3 linked regions of the Homo sapiens genome follow. The protein of the gene in region 3 interacts with the protein of the main gene of each other region in a pairwise test. Each region holds a gene or a part of one and is shown on either strand. Other genes may lie near its edges.

Evidence for each region.
Region 1: the proteins of FDFT1 (region 3) and NCAPH2 interact in binary tests that used the Homo sapiens proteins (3 or more experiments, as listed by UniProt).
Region 2: the proteins of FDFT1 (region 3) and TLCD4 interact in binary tests that used the Homo sapiens proteins (3 or more experiments, as listed by UniProt).

Annotation. Positions count from the first base shown.
Region 1 is NC_000022.11:50,518,198-50,521,847, forward strand, and holds part of NCAPH2 (condensin-2 complex subunit H2), read left to right. Parts: coding exon 1-81; intron 82-451; coding exon 452-535; intron 536-992; coding exon 993-1,123; coding exon of another isoform or gene 1,124-1,162; exon of another isoform or gene 1,163-1,555; intron 1,556-2,767; coding exon 2,768-2,839; intron 2,840-3,345; coding exon 3,346-3,412; intron 3,413-3,543; coding exon 3,544-3,650. UniProt on the Homo sapiens protein: Regulatory subunit of the condensin-2 complex, a complex that seems to provide chromosomes with an additional level of organization and rigidity and in establishing mitotic chromosome architecture.
Region 2 is NC_000001.11:95,148,292-95,151,941, reverse strand, and holds part of TLCD4 (TLC domain-containing protein 4), read right to left. Parts: intron 3,241-3,650; coding exon 3,151-3,240; intron 1,735-3,150; coding exon 1,676-1,734; intron 618-1,675; coding exon 523-617; intron 1-522. Other genes in the region: TLCD4-RWDD3 (TMEM56-RWDD3 protein), read right to left, coding at 523-617, 1,676-1,734, 3,151-3,240.
Region 3 is NC_000008.11:11,823,224-11,826,873, forward strand, and holds part of FDFT1 (squalene synthase), read left to right. Parts: intron 1-2,800; coding exon 2,801-2,992; intron 2,993-3,650. UniProt on the Homo sapiens protein: Catalyzes the condensation of 2 farnesyl pyrophosphate (FPP) moieties to form squalene. Proceeds in two distinct steps.

The sequences.
Region 1 (3,650 bases), on a different chromosome or scaffold from region 3:
GAGGGGCCTTCATGTTGGAGCCAGAGGGCATGTCCCCCATGGAACCAGCGGGCGTTTCCCCCATGCCAGGGACCCAGAAGGGTGAGGGCTTGGATGCGGGGGGCTTGGTGGGAAGGAAGGGAGGGTCTTCTGGTTGGACTCTTGTGGGGTGCCCTGTGCTTGCCACCTCTGGTCTTGGGAGCTCCCTGTCTCTGGGTGCCTGCTCTAGTCTAGACAGGTTGGCTGGTGCTCATCCCACCCATCTGCTGTGCCTTGATTACAAGTTAACATGGTCTCAGTGCCAGAGACCTGGTGCCTGGCTCAGGGCCCTGCTGTCTCCCCCCAGCCCAAGGCCTGGAGTCTGCTGGTCTCTGCCCTCCTGCTGGCCCCTTGGAGAGGCTTGTTGAACACCGGGCAGGGACCATCTTGGAGAGGGGCTGGGCTGACCTTGTCTGATCCCTGTCTCTCCCAGACACCGGGAGGACTGAGGAGCAGCCAATGGAAGTTTCCGTGTGCAGGAGCCCTGTCCCAGCACTCGGCTTCTCCCAGGAGCCAGGTGAGAAGAGAGCTCCCCGGTGGGACTGGCAGGGCAGCCAAAGAGGGGACCAGGGAGGCAGCACCCAGTGGACAGGGCTCCAAGGGGCTGCTCTCAGCTGCCAGCCTCATGCCCCTTCTGTGGCCCATGGGAGTGAGGCCTCGCCCCGGGGAAGCAGCCACAGCCCCCGGTGAGCCTCAGCCCATCTTGGTTCACTGACTGCCCTCTGACTGCCCTCCTGGGTCTCCTCTCTGGGCAGATGTGGATGGCTGCATTTAAAGAGGAACATTTGCTAAGAAATAAAATGAACCAAGCAGAGCACAGAGCACAGGAGCACGACGAGGATGGTGCAAGGCACCCGCCAAATCCTCTGGGCTCCGTGACTAAAGCTGAGGGAGGAAGTAGCCATCAGGGTCCCTTTGGTGCCGTCTGGTCTCGGCACTCCTTGGAGCTGATCACTCTCTTGCTCCCTGCCTAGGCCCCTCTCCAGAAGGCCCGATGCCCCTGGGTGGGGGCGAGGACGAGGATGCAGAGGAGGCAGTAGAGCTTCCTGAGGCCTCGGCCCCCAAGGCCGCTCTGGAGCCCAAGGAGTCCAGGAGCCCGCAGCAGGTGGGACCCACATGGAGGCCTGCAGAACCTGAGCTGTGAACTGGCAACCCTGGCTCTGGGGCCGAGTCACCTTGCACAAGGAGGACAGTGGTATGGCCTTGGCCCCAGACCACTGGTCTGGGGCAGAAGCCCACCTGTCTTGCAGCCCGTCCTGCAACCAGCCCTTTTGAAGAGCAGCTTCTGTGTTCCTCCCCTCTCTGAGCAGAACTGATGCTCCTCAGAGTAGTGGGCTGGCGTCCAAGGATTTGAGCCCTGTCGAGCTCACGGCAACCTGGGATGGCCGCCGGTTGCCAAGGCGCCTCTCTGCAGTCGGGCTGGTAGGAGGGAGTGTCTGGAGGCCATTGCTGCCTCCCTCAACCCCCGGGGTCAACTGTACCCAGCCTAGAGCCAAGAAATCCTTCCTTTTTATTCATTAAAACAAAATCAACCTGATGCATACAGAGGAAATGTTAACGTTTCTTCACTCTAGTTGGTAGATGGCATGGATATTTGTCATATTCTATTCATTTTTCCTAGTTTTGAAGAAGAGTACCCCGTGACCACTGTTTGTGTTTTCTGTTTGTTTTTTGAGATGGAGTTTTGCTCTGTCCCCCAGGCTGGAGTGCAGTGGTGCGATCTTGGCTCACTGCAAGCTCCGCCTCCCGGGTTCACGCCATTCTCCTCCCTCAGCCTCCCAAGTAGCTGGGACTACAGGCGCCCGCCACCATGCCTGGCTAATTTTTTGTATTTTTAGTAGAGACGGGGTTTCACCATGTTGGCCAGGATGGTCTCAATCTCCTGACTTCGTGATCTGCCCGTCTTGGCCTCCCAAAGCACTGGGATTACAGGCGTGAGCCACCACGCCCGGCCCACTGTTTGTGTTTTAAAGTTTTTCTTAGGGTTTTTGTTTTAATACCCCCAGAGAGTACTAGCAGGGTTTATTTTTATCTTATTTTATTTATTTATTTTTGAGACAGGGTCTTGCTCTGTTGCCCAGGCTAGAGTGCAGTGGCCTGATCTTGGCTCATTGCAGCCTTGACTCTCTCTAGGCTCAGGTGATCCTTCCACCTCAGCCTCCCGAGTAGCTGGGACTACAGGCGTGTACCACCACACCCGGCTAATTTTTGTATTTTTTGTAGAGACGGGGTCTCACTGCATTGCCCAGGCTGGTCTTGAACTCCTGGGCTCAAGTGATCTACCCGCCTTGGCCTCTCAAAGCACTGGGATTATAGGCGTGAGCCACTGTGTCCGGTCCCTGTAGGTTTTTTTTTTTTTTTTGGACGGAGTCTTGTTCTTTTGCCCAGGCTGGAGTGCAGTGGTGTGATATCGGCTCACTGCAACCTCTGCCTCCTGGGTTCAAGCGATTCTCCTGCCTCGGCCTCCCGAGTAGGTGGGATTACAGGTGTGCGCCACCACACCCGGCTAATTTTTTTTGCATTTTTAGTAGAGGCGGGGGTTTCACCATGTTGGCCAGGCTGGTCTCAAACTCTTGACCTCGGGTGATCTGCCCGCCTTGGCCTCCCAAAGTGCTGGGATTACAGGCATGAGCCACCACGCCCGACCCTTGTAGGGTTCTTGATGTTAACCCAAGGTGGAGTTCCTGGGGTACCCAGAGCCTTGAGGGGAGAAAGAGGAGAAGTGGGGACCCTGTGACTGTCTTTGCAGAGTGCTGCCCTGCCCAGGAGGTACATGCTGCGGGAGCGGGAGGGGGCCCCAGAGCCTGCATCCTGCGTGAAGGTAGGAGTGTTGGGGCCCTGACCCCCGGCAGGGAGGGATGGGCGGATTCGAGGACTGGCTGCCTGCCCATCATGCTCTTGCTCCTGCTGGCCTGTGGTGTTCCCAGCCTGTGGCCCTTTGCACTTGCTCTCTTAAAGACCCCCTCATGCGACTCTGGGCTCCCACCCTCTCTCTAGTGTTCCCCTCTGTGATCCAGGATTTGAGTGTGGTCGGCTCTGCCCCAGGCTGTCACTGCACTTGTTGCCTGGGCTTTGGGAAGGCGGCTGTGCACCCCCTACTCCTCTGGGAGGGTGGCTGTGTACCCCCTACTCCTTTGGGAGGGTGGCTGTGAACCCCCTACTCCTCCTTTGGGAGGGTGGCTGTGCACCCCCTACTCCTCCTTTGGGAGCGCGGCTGTGTACCCCCTACTCTTCCTTTGGGAGGGTGGCTGTGCATCCCCTACTCCTTTGGGAGGGACGGCTGTGCACCCCCTACTTCTCCAGCGCCTTCTTGTGCTCTGTGCCCAGGAGACTCCAGACCCCTGGCAGAGCCTGGACCCCTTTGACTCCTTGGAGTCTAAGCCCTTCAAGAAAGGTAATTGGGTGGAAGGTACCTCCACTCAGGTACCCCTGGCTGGGTTTCCTGGGGCATGAGGTGGGGGGGTGGGAGTGGGCTTTGCACCCTGATCCCCCAGCGGCTCTAAGACAGTCCCTGTTTGCCCCCAGGTAGGCCTTACTCTGTGCCCCCCTGTGTGGAGGAGGCTCTGGGACAGAAGCGCAAGAGGAAGGGCGCTGCCAAGCTGCAGGACTTCCACCAGTGGTACCTGGCTGCC
Region 2 (3,650 bases), on a different chromosome or scaffold from region 3:
AGATATATAATTTAATATGCTTTACTGCCTGAGATCTGTTGGAAGAATCCTCTATTAACCTTGGTCTTGGAATTCTGAAAAAGTCTGAGCAAGATTTCTCCACTGCTCCAACCTACTTAAATGTAATTATGTATATGTAATTGCACATGGAATTAAACAGAAAAGAAATATTTTCGCTGGCTCATACTCTTTGCTGTTAAATCATAAATGCATCTAGAAATACAGACAAATATCTATAGCTACAACAATCCTGAAGGTTTTAAATGGAAATTCAAAGAATTAGGGTCATTTGTCTGTCTCAAAATCTATGAATACAAACAGACACACCAACACCAACACAGACACACATAAAGGTATTATTTTAGTTAATACAGAAGATAGCATACCACAAAAGCAATCCCTGAATGCATCTGGAGATGGTCTTTAAAAACTAAGAATTGTATGTTTAGATTTATGTTCACCTTTACATCACTATTCCCAATCTTGTCTGCTAGTTAGGCTACAGAAAATCCTGGAACTCACCAGTACAAGGTAGTATGCATACAGGGACGCACAATGATGCATTATAAAAAATTTGTCACCAATCACTTTCCAATACAAAATTATAATGGACAAATCTGTAAGAAAGAAAAGTGAGTAAGGTATTACATAAGAAGAAAGTTGCACTGTTTTTCAAATGTATTGAACTCTTTCTCCTGCCAACTCATCACTGTCCACTCTGAGCCCACAGCACTTTGTTCATCCCTCAGTTAGTCTGATTATCTACTTTACCATAAAATCTCTGCTCCTATATGCCTGTCTCATCCACACTCCTGTGGCTCCTCTAAGACAAGGGCCAGGTTGTGAGCATCTTTAAACCCTCAGAATCTAGCACAAGGCCTGGCATGTAGGTTGGTGCAAAAGTAACTGTGATTTTTGCCATTATTTTTAATCACAAAAACTGCAATTACTTTTGTACCAACCTAATCATATGTAATATAATATTTGTTGAAAGCATAAATGAATAACTTGTTTCCAGAGTTAAAATAAACAAAAAATATTATTGAATAGAAATAATTTTAAATAAGCTTAAGTGACTGATTTTTGTCACTACAATAATTCAAACAGAGATAAGATGGTCATAGGGAAGGTACAAAATGACCAACTCATTTATAAAACAAATCGTACAAAAAATATTTTAAAAATAAAAAAGAATGCAATTAAATACTAATTCAAAATAGTGACGCCACCAAAAACTATAACTATTAAAAAGAAAAACAAAGAAAAAAGCTTACTTCTGCAAATTTTACAAAAACAACACAAAACCATGACTACTGGAACACATTTCAAGAACTCTTGCAAGTGAGGGACCCTAAAAGTTAAATTTCGTTAGTTTCACAGTCATTACACTTAAGAGCCTCATTAGGACAAAGAGGGACCATATCCTTGCTGATAAAAAATGTCCAGGCCTCAGTTGTTTGAGGCATCACTCTGTAACTCTGATCTTCAGTGAGAAACAGAAAACCATTTCATGAAAAGACATTTCATGTTCTACCATCATGGGAGGTATTTTTTTCCTCTGTATGCTTCCTAAATGCTATCTCTCAAATAAACCAAAAGCATAGACTATATATTCTTTGTATAATTCCGTGAGTAGTTTACAAGGAATTAGACAATAAAACAACATCTCACATACCAGAAATGAGGTAGCCTGAGGCAATAGCAATATTCACGTTTGCAAGTGATGGACCACCCCTGAAAAAAAAAAAAGGTTCCTTTTTAAAGTATATAGATTGTAGATGACCGCTACTTCTTTTTTCTATAGAGATTTAAATATAATAAAATTGCTTTCTATAGATTCTCAAATGGTAAGCTGTCATCTTCAAATAAAATTGCAAAACACACAATGACAGTTTAGCCAAACTGTGACGCATCATGTGGTACTGGTGTTAGCAGTAAGGTAACTACTGCTGTTATCTTACATAGTAAGATAGTTACAAAGTGAACTACTAGTGAAAGTAACACTAACTAAAATAGCTGGACTACAAATATTTAATAGAAAGATTTAGCACAAGTTGTGCCTTCTTTACAAATTTTGATCTGTAAATATAACCAGGAAAATTTGACCTGGAGTAAATCATGACATAAAATTCAAATCAAAAATTATGTTAAAGTTCGATAAGGCAAAACTTGAACAATGAATCAAATCTTTGTTATGAAATTTACTTCCCAAAAGAACTGGTTTTATTTTGCTGATGGTCACGTTAGTAAAATGAAAACGAAAATTTTTAAAAAGCTAGAAATTTTGTAGGTAGACTATTTAAAAACCTAGTCATGGAATTAAATTCAATAAATTAATTCTCTTTGAAAAACAGCATCCCAATGAAAATGTATCAATACTGATATTATTCTTCTGGGAATAATTTTATATTTATGAATAGAAAAACGTCCTTGCAGTCAAATGGTGGTGGTCAAAAGAAAAGGCTAAATTGCCCTACATCCCCCGGAGCCCACAACTACCTCATCTCAGTGCAGTGCTTCTTCAAACATGCCTGCTCTCTCAAACTAAGCTGAACTAAGCCTTCTCATATAACACCAGGAAACAGTTTGCAAAATTTCTGCCATTGGAATGACATTTAAATTTTTCTAAAAGGACCATCTTACATGTTATCCTATTACTACTGAACACAGTTATTATTAGTGCATTAGTGCTTCAAATCCTGTGGTACTAAATTCCTATCACATGGCCATCTGTAACTCTCATTTCATCTCTTTGATATCAAATGAGTCAAACATAAATTGGAGACAAAAAAGTCTTAAGTAGATATTATCCAAGTTGACTACCCTATCTCAATAATGATTTATTTTTCTTCAGAACTGTGACTACAATAACTTGGCTTTACTCATTAACACAGTAAAAATGTTTAAATTATCATCATATTCTCCTTGTTTTGGATAACAATTGCTACACTAAGGCAAAATGGCCTTCATTTGTGTTCAAATCTAAAATAAATCATTTAAATGCACTTTGCTAGAATGTCTGAGCACAAGCATTTTAATAAGGCATATACGATCAATATGTTTTCTGTTTTAAAGTAAGTGATGTTCTTATAAATAATTAATATCAAAACATAAATGAAATTGGCAATCTTAGAAAAAGAAACAGCTTACCAAAGTGGATCAGCTTTAGTAGCCTCATCGAATAAGAAAATGTACAGGCCAAAAATACCAACCACCAAAGAATGGCATGTGGATACTACCCTGAAATTAAACAAAATACACACAAAGATTTTAGATTCTTTGCAATAAAATTTAATCCTGACAAGACACAGAACATTCTGAACAAGTTATACCTGGAAGCATTTATATACAGGTGTGAAGTATAACGGAGAGTATAATGCAAAATTGCCATTTCTTGCCATTTAGAAATCCAAAGGCCACAGCTTTACTTTGGAATAAAGAAGGAGGAAGATACCAAGGCCTACAATTTCCTGCTAGAGAACTGGTGAATCACTTATTGGTTAAAAGTTCTAAGACAGATAAATGCATACATGATGATGCAGCTGACAGACTTTTGTGCAGCCAGATGGCAACTGGCAAGGCCACTACCCTTGGCTCCAAGCTCCAGCCCCAACAGCATCAATGCAGGATAAGTTTCCTGCTCCAATCAG
Region 3 (3,650 bases):
GGATTACAGGCATGACCAGCCAATTATTTCAAGGAGTTATTTTTTTTCTTCTACTTTGGGGGAAGATGAATTATATAAGTCTCCATTTTAGGAGTATTTCTACCAAAAGAACTATTATCTTCAAATATATTTTTGGATAGTACTATAGATATACTAATTTTTTTTTAAATTTCTAGTAATTCTTTTGAAGATTTTGTATAGCTGTCCAAAGCCAATTTCTGTCTACCTAATTTCAGCAAGATTTCACTCTTTTCATGTTACTTTTGTCCCAGAACAAATTTCAAGTGCTTTCTCTTCACCTGTGCATTCTTCCCCCTGATTAGTCTCTGGCTTTGTATTACTTTCAGTCAGAGACGACTTTTTTTTTTTGAGACAGGGTCTCACTCTGTCACCCAGACTGGAATGCAGTGGCACAGACAAGGCAGCCTTGACCTTCTGGGCTCAAGCAATCTTCCTTGCCCTCAGCCTCCTGAGTAACTGGGACCACAGGCACGTTGCCACCATGCCTGGCTAATTTATTTTAATTTTTATTATTTTTGAGACAGGGTATTGCTCTGTCACCCAGGCTGGAGTGTAGTGGCATGATCAAGGCTCACTGCAGCCTTCACCTCCTGTGCTCAAGCAGTCCTCTCACCTCAGCCTCCCCATTAGCTGGGACTATAGGTCCACACCACTACACCAGGCTAATTTTTGTAATTTTTTGGTAGAGACAGGGTTTCATCGTGTTGCCTAGGCTGGTCTTGAGCTCCTGGGCTCAAGCGATTCACCTGCCTTAGCCTCCCAGGTGTGAGCCACTACACTCAGCCTTTTAAAATTTTTTACAGAGATGAGGTCTTGCTTTGTTGGCCAGGCTGGTCTAAAACTCTTGGGCTCAAGCAGTCCCCTCTCCACAGCCTCCCAAAATTCCGGGATTACAGGCGTGAACTTCGGTCATTTCCTAACTTTTACCCTTCCTAATGACACTCCAGAGCTTACCTTCTTTACTTTTGCTTCTTAAGTTAACTAATAGACAATTATTGTATGTGGATATTGCATTAAGTTGTCTTAGGATACCCTTTTCAGAGGAGGACAGCTTTTGACAAATTGCTGTCGCGGAAAAAAAAAGTATTTGGCAATTAAGAGTTGCATTTACTGAAATCTCTGTTGAGAGAGGGGAAGTTACGTTGTCTCTAAAAGAAAAACTAAAAAGAAAAGGGGAAGTTTTAGCAAAGTTGTTAAAGCCTGACACTTAAGTCATACTACCTAGTTTTGAACTCTTAGCCCCTGCCACAGACACGGCAGCCCCTTGAACCTTCCTGGGTTCAAGCGAGCCTCCTACTTCAGCCCCCTGAGTAACTGGGACCACTGGCCTGTGTCACTGTGCCTGGCTAATTTTTTTTTTTTCTCACATGGGCAATGTTGGGCAAGTTAAATCGACTTCTTTGTGCCTCAGTTTCCTCATCTGAAATGGAGATCATACTGCTATGTACCTGATACAATGTTTGTGAGGATTGAATGTGCAGAGTTCTTTTTTTCTGTTGTTGTTGTTTTGAGACGGAGTCTCACTCTGTCGCCCAGGCTGGAGTGCAGTGGCGCGATCTCGGCTCCCTGCAAGCTCCACCTCCTGGGTTCACGCCATTCTCCTGCCTTAGCCTTCTGAGTAGCTGGGACTACAGGCACCCGCCACCAGGCCAGCTAATTTTTTTGTATTTTTAGTAGAGACGGGGTTTCACCGTCTTAGCCAGGATGGTCTTGATCTCCTGATCTCGTGATCCGCCCGTCTCAGCTTCCCAAAGTGCTGGGATTACAGGCATGAGCCATCGTGCCCGGCTGAATGTGCAGAGTTCTTAAAACCGTGTCAAGAACATAAAATAGTTATTTGTTCTTTCATATAATGATGATTTTGAGGGCCTGCGGATCTTGACATGTTATCAGATTGGTCAAAAAAAGATTAAACCATAGTTGGTATTGTCCTAGTTCCTGTTACCAGAATATTCCATCTTTCATCGTTGCCTTCTCTCATAGTTTTATGTATCAAAAAGTTTATTGTAAAGCTAGGGCGGGCACGGTGTCTTGGGCTGGTAATCCCAGCACTTTGGGAGGCCAAGGCTGGCAGATCAGTTGAGGTCAGGAGTTCGAGACCAGCGTGGCCAACATGGTGAAACCCCGTCTCTACTAAAAATAAAAAATTAGCTGGATGTGGTGGTGGGTGCTTTAATTCCAGCTACTCAGGAAGCTGAGGCAGGAGAATCACTTGAACCCAAGAGGCAGAGGTTGCAGTGAGTTGAGATTGTGCCAGTGCACTCCAGCCCAGGGGACAAAGTGAGACTTGATCTCAAAAAAAAAAAAAAAAAAAAAGTTATTGTAAAGCTAGACACGGTGGTATTTGCCTACAATCCCAGCTGTTCGGGAAGCTGAGGCAGAAAGATTGCTTGGGTCCAGTAGTTTGAGTCTAACGTGGGCAAATATATGAGACTCCATCTCAAAAAAAAAATAAAAAATAAAAATAAAAAAATGTTTACTAGTTTTTTTCAGTAGCCTTTTATTATAGTAGCAGTACATGTGTATTGTAGAAATTTGGAAAATACAAGTGAAAAATAAAAACATCAAATTCCCGTCAGCCAGAGACTGCTATGAAATGTTTTGAGCACATCCTTCTTGAATGTTTTTTAAATCCTGGTATGTATATTTGTATTTTAAAATCAAAATGCATTCTTACCCATTCTCTTTTGAACCTGCTTTTTTGTAGCTAATGATCTCTAGTGTGTCCATTTCAGTAAAAATTCCATTATTAAAGTGCTTTAAAAATCGTCTCTTACAGTACTGCCACTATGTTGCTGGGCTGGTCGGAATTGGCCTTTCCCGTCTTTTCTCAGCCTCAGAGTTTGAAGACCCCTTAGTTGGTGAAGATACAGAACGTGCCAACTCTATGGGCCTGTTTTTGCAGAAAACAAACATCATCCGTGACTATCTGGAAGACCAGCAAGGAGGAAGAGAGTTCTGGCCTCAAGAGGTAACAGATTCAGGGTATTTTGGGGGAAAATAACTTTAGACATTCTCTGAAAAATCCTTTAACTCTTGTGGTTGCGGGTGACAGAAAAACAAGTCAGGCCTCCCCCAGGCAGCATAAGGGGATGTGGAAAATAGGATAGCTTGACATGAGTTTGCTTCAGGTAGACTGGCTGACTCCCAGGATTCACACCACGTAATCAGTATATTCAAGCCTTGCTGTCCTTGATTTCTTTCAGACGGTCTTTCTCCAAGTGGTGGATATGGTAACAACCCATGTGCACTAGCTTAACAAAAAGTTCTTAGGAATGGCTTTGTTCGGCCTGGCGCAGTGGCTCATGCCTGTAATCCCAACAGTTTGAGAGGCCAAGGTGGGCGGATCACCTGAGGCCAGGAGTTCGAGACCAGCCTGGCCAACATCGTGAAACCCCGTGTTTACTAAAAAATACAAAAATTAGCCGGGCGTGGTGGCAAGGGCTTGTAATCCCAGCTACCTGGGAGGCTGAGGCAGGAGAATCGCTTGAACCCAGGAAGCAGAGATTGCGGTGAGCTCAGATTGTGCCACTGCACTCCAGCCTGGGCGACAGAGTGAGACTCCCTCTCAAAAGAAGAGGAAGGGCTTGGTTCTTCTGCTCAGCCCTGAATCAGTTACTGTTGCTACA